Regions from separate parts of the Homo sapiens genome. Here region 1 is linked to region 2. Evidence: fine-mapped expression QTL. Tissue or cell type: whole blood. Region 2 holds a variant in brackets; the other region holds the start of a gene. All regions are shown on one strand. Distances are between the middles of the regions.

What was found. PIP is the estimated chance that this variant, and not a neighbour inherited with it, causes the effect.
Region 1: MICU3 starts here. The variant in region 2 is fine-mapped to the expression of MICU3 in whole blood (INTERVAL, PIP 0.95).

What each region holds. Positions count from the first base shown.
Region 1 is chr8:17,022,260-17,030,744 of GRCh38, forward strand. It overlaps MICU3 (mitochondrial calcium uptake family member 3), which reads left to right and starts at 4,979. Exons shown (of 15, transcript NM_181723.3): 1 at 4,979-5,401. The coding sequence starts at 5,021. RefSeq lists a silencer at 4,957-5,366 and an enhancer at 5,517-5,606.
Region 2 is chr8:17,062,053-17,070,052 of GRCh38, forward strand. MICU3 (mitochondrial calcium uptake family member 3) reads left to right here. Exons shown (of 15, transcript NM_181723.3): 2 at 2,032-2,185; 3 at 7,636-7,667. Among named protein-coding and RNA genes, the nearest start is that of MICU3, 39 kb to the left of the region's middle. The variant T/TAG (reference allele first, on the strand shown) is at 4,486.

The sequences.
Region 1 (8,485 bases), 40 kb before region 2:
CTAGCCAACATGGTGAAATCCCGTCTCTACTAAAAATACAAAAATTAGCTGGGCATGGTGGCGCTCGCCTGTAGTCCCAGCTACTCGGGAGGCTGAGGCAGGAGAATTGCTTGAACCTGGGAGGCGGAGGTTGCAGTGAGCCGAGATCGCGCCACTGCGCTCCAGTCTGGTGACAAAGCAAGACTCCGCCTAGAAAAAAAAAAAAATGGAGAGAGCCTTGGGGAAAACCTATGGCTTTAAGGCTCTAGTCCAGGAGGATACGGCCAAATCATAGTAACAGGATAACTTCAGTGCTAGAATCTGAAAATCACAAAATCTGTTCTTGAATCAAGCTTTCTGCATGATCATACTTTGTTGTCCACCCCCCTCCCCTTTTTTTAGAGGGTCTTGCTTTGTCACCCAGGGGCTGGAGTGCAGTGGCATGATCATAGCTCACTGCAGCCTCGAACTCCTGGGGCAAGCAATCATCCCACCTCAGCCTCCTGAGCTGCTGGGACTGCAGGCATGCACCACCACTCCTGGCTAATTTTAATTTTAATTTTTGTAGAGACAGGTTCTCACTATGTTTCTCTGGCCGGCCTTGAACTTCTGGCTTCAAATGATCCTCCTGCCTTGGCCTCCCAAAGTGCTGGGATTACAGGTGTGAGCCACTTCACCTAGCCCACACTCTATCTGTGATCCTTCTTTGCCAGTCCCTTGCTTTTTCCCTTTGGCCTCCCATCTGTGTTGATTGCATTTCCTCATTGATGTGCTGCTTGGTTTGTCAGCTTGTTTAGTGTCTGATGGGCCATTGTATTTCCTTGTCACCTAACTTGCCTTCCTATGTTGACCTCCACCTTCCCCCCTTTTCAAGACATTGCTTTTCATTTAGTAAATATAATTGAGGTCCTAATGTGTGCCAGGAACTGGGCTAGAAGATGCATACCCTGGCCTCATGTTGCTTAGAGTCAGCTTGGCTTTGCCTAATGGAAAAAGGGTGAGATACAGATCACAGTCTTTGGGAATGAGAGCTCATCAAAACAGAAAACAGACCCTCAGTGTCTTGTGTAACTTGGTTTCCATAGCCCTGGATGCTGAGGAATTGAGTTCTAGATTGCTGGTGGGTAGCACTTTGAAGAAAACAGAGCAAGAACATACCTTCCCCAACACTGTCTCCTATGTCAGTTTTGCCCTAAGGAAGACAGCATGGAAGGTGGAAGGCAATTTGAGAAAATGATGACAACTTTCCCAAGAGAGAAGAAGATGGTTGCAACCTTGCTCTCTGCTGGTAGACTTGAGTGGACCTGGGGATGGGGTGGTTCATGTGCCCTGATACAGATCTCAGATGTAACTGCTGCTCTTTTAACTAGTCAAGAATCTGGAGCTCAGAATGACCAAAATAAGGAATGCAGTATATTTTAATAGAAGTTTTGTTAAACAAGACATTCCTGCCTATTGCACTTATATTCCACTTTTTCAAACTTTTCAAAATCACTAACGTATTTGCAATTTTAAATGCAGTAGAAGGTTAAAATAATTAGATAAAGGAATGGATTTTTTTTTTTTTAAACATAGTCTTGCTCTCTCACCCAGGCTAGAGTGCAGTGGCTCAGTGATGGCTTACTGCAACCTCCTTTTCCCCGGTTCAAGCCATCCTCCTATTTCAGCCTCCCGAGTAGCTGGGACCATAAGCACGCACCACTATGCCTGGCTAATTTTTGTATTTTTTGTAGAGACGAAGTTTTGCCATATTGCCCAGGTTGGTCTCGAACTCCTGAGTGATCAACTCACCTTGGCCTCCCAAAGTGCTGGGATTACAGACGTTAGCCTGCGTGGTCCGGGGATGGAATTTTAAGTTGAAAGAATAAAACAATCTTAGGCCAATTGTAGATTTTCAGAAGAGAAATGATACATGAAAAATACCATGAAGTATCTTTCTATGGTTTACTGATACACTTGGAGCATTTTAGTTCATTAGAAAGATGGGTTCAGGGGTGATCATCTATTTCAACTCCACTATTTTAGAGACTGTGGCTTCCAAAGCATTATAATTAAGATGCAGCAAATCCAAGACTGGAGTCCAGATTTCTTCACTTCTAATTTATTACTTATTCACTGAGGTATATGCTTTCCTGGAAAACCCTTTTTGGCTTAATCCCCATTGTTTGAAACATTTTTATTGTTTCAGAACATTTCTTTTTATTTAGACCATAGTGAACGATAAGTGGATATTTCTTTCAAGGTGTGGGCTCTCACTGTGGAGTAGGGGCATTTTGGGGGTTATTCTTAATGCTCAGTAGAATTGACATAAAAGATAAGGGATACTGGGTTGACTCTATATTGATCCAACAATATTACCTGAAATTTCAAAAAAAAAAGGTTCCAAATTCCTAATATCATATTTTCTTAAAATTTTTCCTCTGGGAATTAAACTCAGAAAAATATCCACATAACAAGGGAATTTGGTTATTTTTGTGTAGCTATAGTTACAGAGCATCAAACGTGGGAAGAAAACAGTAACTATTCTTAAGGAAATTTCACCTTTAGAGGGAAAGTACTGTTGAAAATTATTAGTAAAGCTGTTTTTGCACGTGAGAGGTATTTTATCCAAAGTTCTCTGACTGATCTACAAACATAAACTTAGCCCTTCTCACAGCAGTACTTAGCTTCTAACCAGATAAATTGTTTGCAGGAGCTCTATCAAATTTAGAAAACTATAGAGAAACTACATAGAAATCTATACGTATGTGTCTGTATTTGTCATCTTAGATGAAGGATGTCATTTTCCTCATCTGTAATGTGATGTTATTGTATTACCTCCCTAATCTTCTTTAGAACTACTTAGCTTTTAACATGCAACTAGTAAAAATTGATCAGTTTGTCCAAGAATTCTGGCATTAGACTATAATAAGAATTTATGAGAAAATCAGGAAATCATGTTCAGTTCAAAGTAAACAGTGTCAGAACTATTATTATAATTTTTTTTTTTTGAGACAGAGTTTCGCTCTGTCACCCACGCTGGAGTGCAGCGGCACAGTCTCGGCTCACTGAAACCTCCACCTCCCGGGTTCAAACAGTTCTCCTGTCCCAGGCTCCTGAGTAGTTGGGACTACAGGCGCATGCCACCACACCTGGCTTTTTTTTTTTTAAGTTTTTTGTATTTTTAGTAGAGATGGGGTTTCACCGTGTTAGCCAGGATGGGCTCTATCTCCTGACCTCATGATCCACCCGCCTCGGCCTCCCAAAGTGCTGGGATTACAAGTGTGAGCCACCACGCCCGGCCAATATGATTATTATATTATATATAATATATATAATTATTACCCAGAAGATAATTTATTTGGGGAAACTACCATTTCACAGAATATAGAGAAAGCATAAATTGAGGAAAATTTGGTGATAAAGCAAGACGCTATCAGAGTCTTCCTTAGGCATTGACTCCATAAAACCCACAGGCTGAAACTGAAGAAAACTCAGAGACAGGTTTTAAAATACACAAAATTTGTTCATCTGCTACAGAAGATTTTTCTTCTTACCGCTTTTAGCAGCTTTAAGAAAGCAAAATGCCATTAACCTCTATTAAAATAAGAGGTAACAGGGTGTACCTGATGTGCTATTTACATGCAAGGTGTTAGGAATAGAAATTGCAGGACCTCCAGGAGTTCGAGGCCAGCCAGGCCAAGATGGTGAGACCCCCATCTCTACTAAAAACACAAAAATTAGCCAGGCACGGTGGCGGGTGCCTGTAATCCCAGCTACTCGGGAGGCTGAGGCAGGAGAATCGCTTGAACCAGGGAGACGGACGTTGCAGTGAGCCGAGAATGTGCCACTGCACTCTAGCCTGGGCAACAGAGCAAGACTCCGTCTCAAAAAAAGAAAAAAAAAAGGGAAGAAATTGTAGGACCTGAGCCAGAAAAAACTCATTTGGTCGTCTCTGAAAGCCTTTAGTCTTTACAAGAATTGCCAGAATCAACTGATGGTGTATTCTCTTGTCACTGCAGCCCAATTGAGACCACTGTATTTAGTTGTCTGTCCCCTTAGATCCACAATATTTTAGGGACTCCTGGCACCATTCCATAGTAGGAAGAAAAAGCTAACATAATTCAAGTTACCAAAACTGGGGTCTGGGGAGAGAAACTGATAGGAACTTCATCTACACTTTCTCATAAAAACTGATACTGATAACATAGCAAACAAAAAGTACAGTAAAAACAAAAAGATGACACAATACGCTTCTCATTTATTTTATATTTATACAAACAGCGCTTCCCTGAAAAATCAGGGTATCGTTCAAGATTTTATCTTTATTCACAGAAGTTTTAAAATTTTTAACTTTTATATGCACAAGACAGTTCTGATTTGTTGAATTAAGTGACCGCGGGTGTGCTAATGCTTCTAAAAAACAGCATTAGCCTTCTCCCATCAAAAGTCCGGAAGCTGCCCTTCAGTCGTCAAAGTGTTTGCCTTAATTTGCAATCGTTATGACTTGAGCCAAATGCTTATACCTCATTTGTGTCGTATATGTGAAGATACAATTGCAAATCGTTCACGACCTTGAGTCAAGACCTTGAGTTTCCTGAGGTCAGGAGACCGTTAGGGAATGTGAGTGTCCCAGACGGGCGCTGAGCCCAGCTCGGAGACCCACCCCGCCCGTAGCAGCGGCGCGGGCCCCAGAGAGCCCCGCACTCGGCCGCGCCTCAGTTACGCTGACTCGGCTGTGCCCGCAGTGTCGCGCTGTCGCGTAGCCAGGTGTCGCCGGGCTGGCGCGGTTATTTATGACTGCGTGGTTGGGCTGGGGGTTCGGGGCCGGGGAGCAGCCGGGATCCGCCGCCTCTTCCATGATCTTCCCGGGCCGAACCACGGGACCGCTACGCTGAAGGTGGCGTCGCGGGTCCCCGGGGCCGCGCGAGTGTAGGGGTCGCTCTCGGCCGGCCGCGAAGCTCGCGGCACCGACTTCTCGCGAGATTTCGGCGACCCCCCCCCCCGCCCCCGCCCCTCCGTTCTCTGCCCCCTCCCAGCTCTGGTGTGGGCGGCCTCCGCTATGGCTGCGCTGCGAAGGCTCTTGTGGCCGCCACCCCGGGTGTCTCCTCCACTCTGCGCTCACCAGCCCCTCCTTGGGCCGTGGGGGCGGCCTGCGGTGACCACCCTGGGCCTTCCTGGCCGGCCCTTCTCCTCCCGAGAGGATGAGGAGAGGGCTGTGGCGGAGGCGGCATGGAGGCGGCGGCGGCGCTGGGGGGAGCTGAGCGTGGCGGCGGCGGCCGGCGGGGGGCTGGTCGGCCTGGTATGCTACCAGCTGTACGGGGACCCCAGGGCCGGCTCGCCGGCGACCGGGCGACCCTCAAAGAGCGCGGCCACGGAGCCCGAGGACCCGCCCCGCGGCCGGGGGATGCTGCCCATCCCAGTGGCGGCTGCCAAGGAGACGGTGAGTGCGCGAGCGCGCGTCACACCTGCGCGGGGGATGTGACCTTCGTGCCGGGTACGCAGGACCCTGGAGGCTGTGGGGACGGTGCAAGCGCTGTGGCCGCGGGTGAGGAACTTCCCGTGAGCGAGGCTGACACCTAGGCCGGACAGCCTAGGATCCGGTCACCCACGTATTGGGAAGACCAGTGATGCTGTCCCTGATGCATCAGGACCTTAAAGGTGGCTGCAGCTACCAAGTATCAATCCAAACCCAAAACCAACACCCCTCCCCCTCTTACAAAAAAAGATTCAGAAATGAAGGCCATGACAGGCAGAAAGTGGACCGCTGTAGGTGTGGGAAAAAGGAACTCCTAGATTGCGCGGGGCGACAGCTAATGACCCAGGAGGTCTGTTGCATTAGAATGAGTTTCGAAGCAGCGGTCTGAGATCTCAAAAGCCACTACTTTAGCATATGAGAATTTATTAGTCCCAAGAAAGGAAATGCTAAACCTGCATGCTAACGCCCTTATCATACCCAGGGAATGTTGATGTTACCAGGTCTGAAAAGAAATAAAAAATTGTTCAAAAAGAGACATAAGTATTTCTCTCTTTTTCCTTCCCCCACTAAAGCCAGAATCCCGTTAGTAGGTAACGATAAAACACAAAATGGATAGGATAGCAAATGTAGGAGGCTGTGAATGACACAAACTCCTACAGAAGAAAGTCACGTGAAAATGTTCAACTGTCATTATGTAGTTAATAATACAAGGTAAAGATGTGTGAAAGGCAACAGTGAGTAAAGGAGCGTGATTTTTTTTGTCGCATCAGTATATTTAATAGTCATGTAAATGACTAGGAAAATTAAGGAGATTTTCCTTGCAAGGCTCGAAGAATGTGAACGGCGTAGATGAAAATAATTTAGAAAACAGAGAGCTATGCTGTTTCTAATGCAATTTTTATAGGCTTTGTTCTTAATACGCAGTGGTGATCTGATGTAAGTGCATCATTTCCTTTGGTGGAGGTTGTCAATGCAATTAGGTTACGGAATCTGCTTTATGGACTATCTAGCAGCAGATCACAAGCACATAACATAAAGTCCTTTTACACATGAATATTCAAAATACTAGGAAATACCCTCAAATCTCCACCCCCTCCCCCTTCACAAATACACATCCACTTTTGTGGCTTGGCAAGGAGCATAGCGTTTTTCATGATGGCAGAACTTTTAATTAACCATAGTTGGTCTAGGAACAGATCAGCAAGGTAGGGAATTCAAGTAGTATTTTCTTTTCTTTCTTAAAATTAATTTTACTTTTACAGTTGAGAGATGTTATCTTGCAGTTTTTAAAAAGACCACGTTCAGAAAGCTAGAACTTTGGCTCCACGACTTGCTACTTGTGTCATTATGGAGAAATTACTTGACCTGTCAATGCCTGTTTCCTCACCTGTGAAATGAGGCTAATAGTCTCCTGGGGTGTTATGAGAGTTAAATGAGTTAACACAGTATATTTAAAACAATGGTACTACTAAAGAACATTAAATAAATTTATTTTTTGGCTGAGCGTGGTGGCTCACGCCTGTAATCCCAGCACTTTGGGAGGTCGAGGCAAGCAGATCACCTGAGGTCAGGAGTTCGAGACAAGCCTGGCCAACATGGCGAAACCTCGTCTCTACTAAAAATACAAAAATCAGCCGGGTGTGGTGTTGGGCGCTTGTAATCCCAGCTACTGGCAAGGCTGAGGTAGGAGAATCACTTGAACCTGGGAGACAGAGGTTGCAGTGAGCCGAAATCACACCTCTGCACCCCAGCCTGGGTGACAAGAGCGAAACTCCATCTCAAAAAAAAAAATTATTTTTTATTCGTTTATTTATTTTGTACTTTTGTGCAGTTATTATTGCTTAGTGTTTATAAAAATTTCTGTTCATTGTTTTAGAAGTCAAATAATGTTAAAGTCCTGTGTCTTATGCTTCCCTAGCCTCTAGTCCTACTTTCTGATTGTCATGCCTTTTGTATTTCCCTCTCTGAAAACTTTTATGATCTGTTTATCCCTGGTGCTTGAAATTTTCACAGTAATGAGCTTCGGGATGTGTATTTTTTCACTGATTGTGCTAGGTTCTTAAGAGGCCTTTCAATATGGAAATCCGTGTCTAAAAAATTCTGTGTAATTTTCTTCTATTGTTTCTTTGATGATTTTTCTCTTCTCCCTCTTTCTATTCTCTTTTTCTGGAAATGCTGTTTCTTTGAAGTTAAATTTCCTGACAGATCCTAATCTAATTCTAATCATTCTTATATTTCGGTTTTAAAAAATATTTTCATCTGTTTATTTGTTTTTATAGCAGATATCCTGGGCTTTATCTTCCAACCTTCCTACTGAATTTTTTTATTTCTGCTATTCTACTTTTTTAATTCAAAGAGCGACTTTGTGTTCTCTGTTGTTGATGAGTTATAGCATTCTATTTTGCTTTCTATATGGCTGCTATATTTTCTCTTTTTGCTGTAAGGATATAAATTATAACTTTGTTTTGCCTTCTAAGGATATAAATTATAACTTTGGCCTTCTCTGTGCATTGCTTTGTTTCTTCCAGGTTCTTTTTTATTTCTGTTTGATTTTATAAGCTCTTGCTTTCATTTTGGAGGTTTTCCTCACATATCTGTGGTTGTTACCTGTCTCTTACTTGAGAACCTCTCAGAGGGTGTCTGTGCATAACATGTCCTTTCATCTGCACGAAAGGGCTTCTTATTAGTGTAACATCCAAATGTCAGTATTTTACAGCTCTTTTTCTCTGATGCTGTTGAGCGTCTACAAAAAATAGGAGAGATGAGAGGTGCAGTAGTCTTCTGGCAGCAGGCACATGTGCACATATATGTAACACCACTTATGTTGGTGAGTATTATGGGCTTCTTATTAGTGTAACATCCAAATGTCAGTATTTTATACCTCTTTTTCTCTGATGCTGTTGAGCGTCTACAAAAAATAGAGATGGGAGGTGTAGTAGTCTTCTGGAAGCAGGCACAGGTGCACATATATGTAACAGCACTTATGTTGGTGAGTATCTAATGATATACTTAGGTATTGTTATCTAATCCTCTGCTTTTAGCCCAACT
Region 2 (8,000 bases):
TTTACTGTTAAATTAAACTCCGGGGCTTTAGTCTGGCATTCAGAAATCATTAGCTCACCATCCTTTTACTACACTTCTCCATGAATATGAATCCTCTGCCCAGGAAGATTATGGCCATCTTTCAAATATGCTGTAGAAACTCCACATGTTCATATCTTTTCTTGACATTAAAATTTATCATTTTTCCTGAAGCCTTCTTTTTAAGCCCAGCCTATGGCACCTTTCTTCTATTTGCTTGCATTTAACCCATTCCGTTTCTCTGTTTGTGCCTTTTGTCTCTCCAGCCAGCATTCTCTCTTTCCATATAGATTGATATTCATTCCTTAAAGACAGACACCACAACTTCCATTTCTTATGCCGTTAGAAGTGGGGAGCGAAACTTTTTTTCAGTTTTTATTTGACTACTCCTGTAATGTTTTGAGAAGTCTTAGTCTTCAGAATGATGGAAAAGATTAATCATTTGCCTGGCTTTTCGTTTAATAAGATGTAACTTAGAAATAAAGTAGTATTCTTGCCAAAAGTTTCTTTGGGTTGTTTTTGTTATGGCTTCTCAAGGTACTAAATATTTAAACAGTTTTTTCTTATATGAAATCATTTTATAAAATACGTGAAAGTATAATTTGTGTGTTACTGATAATCATGTAAATTGCTATAAACTCCATGAAGACAGTTTGACTAAAAAGTCTTCTTTGACTAATCAGTTTCACTCCTAAGGATTAAGGGAGGCTAGGCAGGAGAGTCGCTTGAACCTGGGAGGTGGAGGTTGCAGTGAGCTGAGATCATGCCACTGTACTCCAGCCTGGGTGACAGAGTGAGACTCTGTCTAAAAAAAAAAAAAAGAACTTATCCTGAAGAACTGTTATGGATATTTCTGAATATTTTCAAGGTTGGTCATTATACCATTGTTTTGTAATAGCAAAAGATTAGAAGTCAACATGAATAACCAAGTAGAATTGTTTATGTTATACTATAAACATTTTCTATGGAATATTATACAGTTAACAAAAATGGTCTTCTACAGGAATAGTGACACAGGAAAATGGCCCCGAAGTTTTAGTAAGTAAAAAGGTCAGATTACTGAATGATATATATGGTATAATCCCATTTTCTTTGCCAAAAGAAAGCAAAAACAATTCTATCTATAAATTTTTAGATTCTGTCTTCTAATTTTATACGGTAACTACTAGAATATTTAGTGACATAGAAAAATGGCCCTGATAATTGATAAGTGAAAAAGATCAGGTTATTGAAGCATGTATGGTAAAATCCCACTTTTTTGCCAAAAAGAAAACAAAATTATACTTAACAAATTTTTTACAATTCTGTCTTCTAAATTACATGTAAGAGCTTTGCATTTCTCTTGTAATCAGGAAAATAAATCCTTTTATTAAAAAAAATTGCTCTAGTTACTTCAGAGAGAAAATAACAATGGAATATTATCTACAAGGAAAGGTCTTGAAGGAAAAGAGACCCCTAAAATTCAGACCAATGATGGCCACTATACTGTAGTGATCTGGAACTAGCAATTTCACTTCTAATCTAAATATTACCACTAATGGTTTCCTTAGTGGTAGTTATAAGTAGCCTATTGGGATTTTACTTTATTCTTTTAGAAAATTAGTGGATGTTAGTGAATAGACTTGTAATTAAATACATTAGCCTATAAGAGTACATAGTAGGCATTCAGCAAGCGCTGGTGTTCCTTCTAAAAGTACCACTGGCTCCATAATTTAATGTTCTTTAAGACTGAAGCTTAAGAAATAAACCAAAAAAAAATCACAAATCACTTCTCCAAAGTGCCAGTTTAAAATCCTTAAGCTCTTAATGATATTTTTTGTAGAATCTTTCGAATATTAATTTATTTTATTTATGTGAATAATTTATTTATAAAGTGATTAACGTTTTTCAGAAGACGATATTTTCACACTTCCTCATTTACTCTGTTTATTCACTTTCAACATAATTAAAAGTATCTTCTAGAGGGAGGTATTACTTCACATCATCCAAATGTATTTGCTTTCTTAACTTTAGGTTGCTATTGGCAGAACAGACATTGAAGACTTAGACCTTTATGCCACATCTCGGGAGAGGCGATTTCGTTTATTTGCTTCTATAGAATGTGAAGGGCAGTTATTCATGACTCCGTATGATTTTATTTTGGCTGTTACAACAGATGAGCCCAAAGGTAAGTACACTTTTGAAATTATCTTAATAATTGTATAATTTTTTTATCTCTAGCTTGTGAATGGATGGAGCAGTATAAGTTTTTTAGAAGAACTGAGTAATGTGGTATTTCACATGATATTGTGCTATTCAGTGTTACAGACTGATATTTCTTACAAACTCTTACTCACATCTCTTCTCTTTTCAGAAACTTTCAATTGCTCCATCTTTCTCAGCTTAACACCATCTTACTTTTGATACTCTTTATAAAAGACTCATATTCTGCCTCTTCATTCTTATATCAAACCTGAACAGAGTAGTTCAGAGGACTGGCTTTGAGGTTAGCCCTGGGCAAGAATTCTACCTGTATCTCTTCTGCGTTTGTCATAGCTCCTGCAGTGTAAATATATTAATAGTTTCATTGTCTCTCACCTTTTCATATGTTAGAATAATGGTTCTCAAAATTTTTGGAAGTATGTACATTCTTGCAAATCTCTTAATATCTAACTTAACAGAAGACAGCTGTATTCTCATGTGTGCTTTTTTATTTGATCTGTTATAATATGTTGTTTTCCATGAAATATATGAAGAAAATCTACCTCACAGACATGGACAGTAAAAAAAGGAGTATTTTAATTGCCTTTTTAGATTATTATAGGTACTCTCCTTTGATACTGTATCACAATTGGCTGGTGGTAGTTGCAGCTTCAAAAGTCTCTATAGATGGTGGTAAAAGAGTAATGAGAACCGAGGATTTCTGGCTGGCTTACCTGGATGGATGGCACTAGGGACCAGGTTTGAGGAGAAAAATCACAATTTCAATTTTGGTCATGTCTATTTGAGATACCTTGGATATATAAAAGGATACAGTGTATTTTTTTAAAAAATAATTCATTTCACTTCACTGAAAGATCACTCACTAAAAATCAGTATAACAAATAATCATTTGTTCGACCCATATCTACTTTAAACTGTCACACAAATACTTTAACTTAGACTAGAACAATTATAGCCATTTTTTCCTCCAGAGACAGCAATATGGCAAAAATGAACCTTAAAATAAATCCTCAATAATTTGACAAATTGGCTACTTGACATAGTAACTTTTAATGAATTTTTGATTCTTTGGATTATTTCCACTGGATATCAAGGAAGAGATTCAGGTATATATTTAGGATTCATCTTTGCATTATTGCTAATTCATAGAATGTGTATGAATGAAATTGCCTAGGGAAGCTGTATAGGATGAGAATATAGATAACCAAAGACTAGGCCTTGAGGAATTTCTGCTCTTTAAAAGATGAATGGACAAAAGGCTTTGAAAGGATGAGAAAAGGGGACATAGGAGTGGCCAGAGACATAGGAAGAAAATCATAAGGGTATGTAGTCATGGAAGCCGAGTAAAATAGCCAGAATTGCCAATTGAGTGCAGTGTTACTGAGAATTCAAGTTAGATAAGAACAGGAAAATGTCCACTAGATTTAAAAACATGAAGGTTATTGATGGTTTTTTAAAATGATGTTTCAGTGGAGTCATTAGGGCAATTGCAGGAGTGAGTAGCAGATGAAGAAATGAAGACGATGAGTGTAAAGGACTCTCTTACAATATTTGATTGCAAAAGAGAAAGGAACTGAAAGGTAGCTGTAATGGAATTTGAAGTAGACACTTTTGATTATGCAAGATTTTAAATTAAAAAAAAGATTTTAACAAGAAACTATGAGAGTAACGTTTAAAGAAATGTAAACTACATAAGCAAAAACATGAAATCAAGACAGTATATGGTATAGTCATAGTAGCCACTTTGGGAATATGTAGGGCCATATAGTGATGGGAAAGGTGAAAAATTAAGTAGAGTTCTTTTTTTTTTTATTTACGAATTTTAAGGCTGTGATAAGTGTTATATCCTTTTTATTTAATCCATTTGGTACAATGTAGATTCTTTATTAGTGAGTTAGTATAGATTTAATACTAATTTGCTAATAAATATAGAGACCATGTTGTACCAAATCAATTAAATAAAAATGTATGGAATATTTATATGTCTGCTTCTGTATTAAGGTTCTTTTCTGTGTGCTAAGGGGGATACAAAGTCTGTGCACTCAGGAAACTTACGATATTATAAGACGACGTAAGATACAGAACCATCTCCAAGGTAGAATATGGTTACCTGGCACATGATAGGTACACAATAAATATTTCTTGAAGGAAGGAATTTGTTAGATGCTAAATGGTATTTTATATCAAATTCTATAATTTTTTCAAACATATTTGAAAGCTATTCTTTAAGTGATTGTTAATAATCTATATATATATATATATATA[T/TAG]ATAGATTTTTTTTTTTTTTTTTGAGGCAGGGTCTTGCCCTGTCCCCCGGGCTGGAGTTCAGTGACGTGATCACTACTCACTACAACCTCAACCTCCGAGGCTCAAGTGATCCTCCCACCTCAGCCTCCCAAGTAGCTGGGACTACAGGCACATGCCACCATGCCACCAGCTAATTTTTTAAATTTTTTTGTAGAGAGAGGGTTTTGCTATGTTTCCCAGGCTTGGCTTGAACTCCTGGGCTCGAGCAGTCCACCTGCCTCAGCCTCCCAAAGTGCTGGGATTACAGGCGTGAGCTACTGTGCCTGGCCACAGTTTCATATTTTGAAAAATTTTACTTCATTATTTTCTAGAATTTTTTTCTTCAGAATACATTCACTGGAAGCACACTGTTCGATTTTGCTTTTTGGAAATAACTTTTGTGGTGATTCTTCTCATAGATATTTTAAAACCATAACTTAAGAGTAAAAAACTGGTTTCTATTATAGAAAAGTTATACAGGATATTTTACAACCACAACTTCAGTTAATTTCTAACCAGCACTTTTCAAACATAATTAGGAACAATCACAAAAGATCAAGATATTCATAAATCCTGTTTTGAAAGTTGGGGTTTTAGAAAAGGAAAAGAATAGAACAATGTTTCATGTACTGAGTATTAAATCAGATATGTTAAAACTGTAGCGTAATGAAATTTGACTTGTGTTTAAACCTTGGCATTTACTGGCTTTGAAAACTTGGTTATTTAATCTTCTGTTTCCTCATTTATAAAAATAACAGCCTCATGAAGTTTTTCTTGAAGATCGAATGAATTATGGTTAGTATAGTACCTGGCACACAGTAAACATTTAATATTGGTATGTCATCATCATCGTCATCAGAATTCATAGCCATGATTTTTTTTTTTTTTCCCCAAGAGGAGACTCGCTCTGTCAACTAGGCTGGACCGCAATGGGGTGATCTCAGCTCACTGCAACCTCCGCTTCCTGGGTTCAAGTGATTCTCCTGCCTCAGCCTCCTGAATAGCTGGGATTACGGGCAGCTGCTGTCATGCCCAGCTAATTTTTGTATTTTTGCAGAGCTGGAGTTTCACCATGGTTTAACCATATTGGCCAGGCTGGTCTCAAACTCCTGACCTCAGGTGATCCTCCTGCCTCGGCCTCCAAAGGGGTGCAATTACAGGCGTAAGCCACCATGCCCAGCCCATAGCTGTGATAATTTTTAAGCAAATATTTACACGGCACACCATTTTTTTCGCTGTTTAAAATCATAGCCATTATTTTTGAAAGTTTTTGATATCATTTTATGATGACATTCAACAGGGAAAAAATGGTATGCTGTGTAAATATTTGCTTAAAAATTATAGATCAAATAAATGTTGAGATATCTGTTGATTATGATTTTGCATTATAATCTTATTTTGCATACTTAAATAGAACCTAAATGGTGACTTTCTTTTCTAGAACTAAAATCAGTAATTATTTTCCAACATAGCATCAAGAATTATTTTAATTTAGATTTTTAAAAATATATTAAATTTTTCAGACATACAAAAACGTATTAAAAATATAATGAACATCAACCTACAGCTTAAGAAATAATATTTCCACTAGAATTGAAGTCCTTCTTCACCTAAGTTATATTTATATGTGCAGTAACTTCATATGAAATAAGGAATTCAGAAAATCCTTTGAAGAGCAATCTTAATGGCTCTTTAGTCTTTATTTAAAAAGATAATAGTATTGAACATGGTGACATTTCCGACAGAATGAATATGTCTTTTGTGAATAATTTACCATGGAAATCTCATAAACCCTGCAAAACTCAAGAGTACCTCTAACTTCCTCTTCCGATAAATACCTTCTGAGCATTGCATAAGAGCACGTGCATGTACTTTTCTACCATTTATTTTTCTTCTTTCCTTACTGCTATATTTTAAGAGCAACAGAATAATAAATACTATTTGTATTGTTCTGTTCATTGTTAAAAGGGAAGTGTCTTTGCACCAGTGTCATAGTTAAGTTTACATGCTAAATTCTAATTTGTAGACCTGTGATTTGAATCACTTGATTACACATTTGTATCAACTATCTTGGATAGATGAAGGATGTTGTTGCTACATAAAGAAGAAATCTATCCTTAGAAACATATTTCTTCTCTTTTGATTTTAAATTGAGTTGTTTTGTTGCCTAATAAAGAAAAAACTACACAGCAAAAATTGCTTTTTTTGTAATTTTGAATTTGATATATTGTTAATTATACAGAAATAGCCCCATTGCCAGGTAGAAGAAGATGTTGGTTGGCATTATTGTAATGTAGCTGAAATAATTAATATTAACCAGTTTCCTAATACAGCTGTATTACAGGGCTTAATCAAATGTAAACCTGGTGCTAATTCTTAGGCAGGCATTAAATATTTACAGTGTTCAAATGTGAGCAAAGGAAATAGCAATACTGACTATACATTTGTCCCAACATTTTAAGTTTTACAGTGTTTGAGATCTTTGGGGGTGTGAGGAGGAATCACAAAAAGAAAGTGATCCCTGACATTTTATTCAGCTGTAACACTCTTACTCCAGTGATGCTTCTTGAATAGTTGTAGGGAAGAGTAATGAAACAGGACAAGTTTCCCCATCACTTTGCCTAGCCTCCCTTTCCTTTCTTTTTTTCTTTCCCCAATCCTTCTTCATCCTAGAGAGACCTGACCTGTGAATTACGTCATGGAACACTAGTATAGCAAAGATCACAAGTAATACCTTAAAATTATAGTTTATCTATGTTAATGTTATTTTATATTCTAGTTTGAATATTTTATAAGTATCATTATTTGTGCTTTTAAGCCCACAAGATGTTTAACATGGAGAAAGTTAGCTTACTTTATTAGTCCAGAAAGCCCAAATTAAGATGATACGGCTGTGGAGAAATGTTTCCTGTATCACTGATACTTACTATGAACAGTGCATAGTATATATGAAGCAAATAGATAACATATATAAGATCATATCACAGATCCAAATTTTGAGGTTAAAAGAAAACTTTGCCTTTTGGACATAAAAGTTTGGTTATGAGTTATGGTTGTAGATGGTTAGCAAATATGGATATATATTCCATGAAGTATTTATTATCTAATTATCTTACATTTGTTTATTTTAGTTGCCAAAACTTGGAAGTCACTTTCCAAACAGGTGAGTTAAAGCTCTTGGTAGATATACACAAATTTTATATGTGCATGCATATATACATATATAATTAAAATATATTTCATAAAATATATTATGTATTTTTATATATTTTATGATTTTTTGGCAAATCAAATCACATCAGAGTTCCTTTTTTTATCCTCCAGATTGTCAGAAAATAAAAAGGTGGACGTTTCTAAGGGCTGGTGAAAATGTAGATTACTGGTAAATCTCATGTGTTGGTATACTCACTTTGGAAAACAATTTGGCATTATCTACTAAAATTGGCGATATGCCTACCCTATACCTAGTAAATACATGCCTGCATTTAAATTCTGC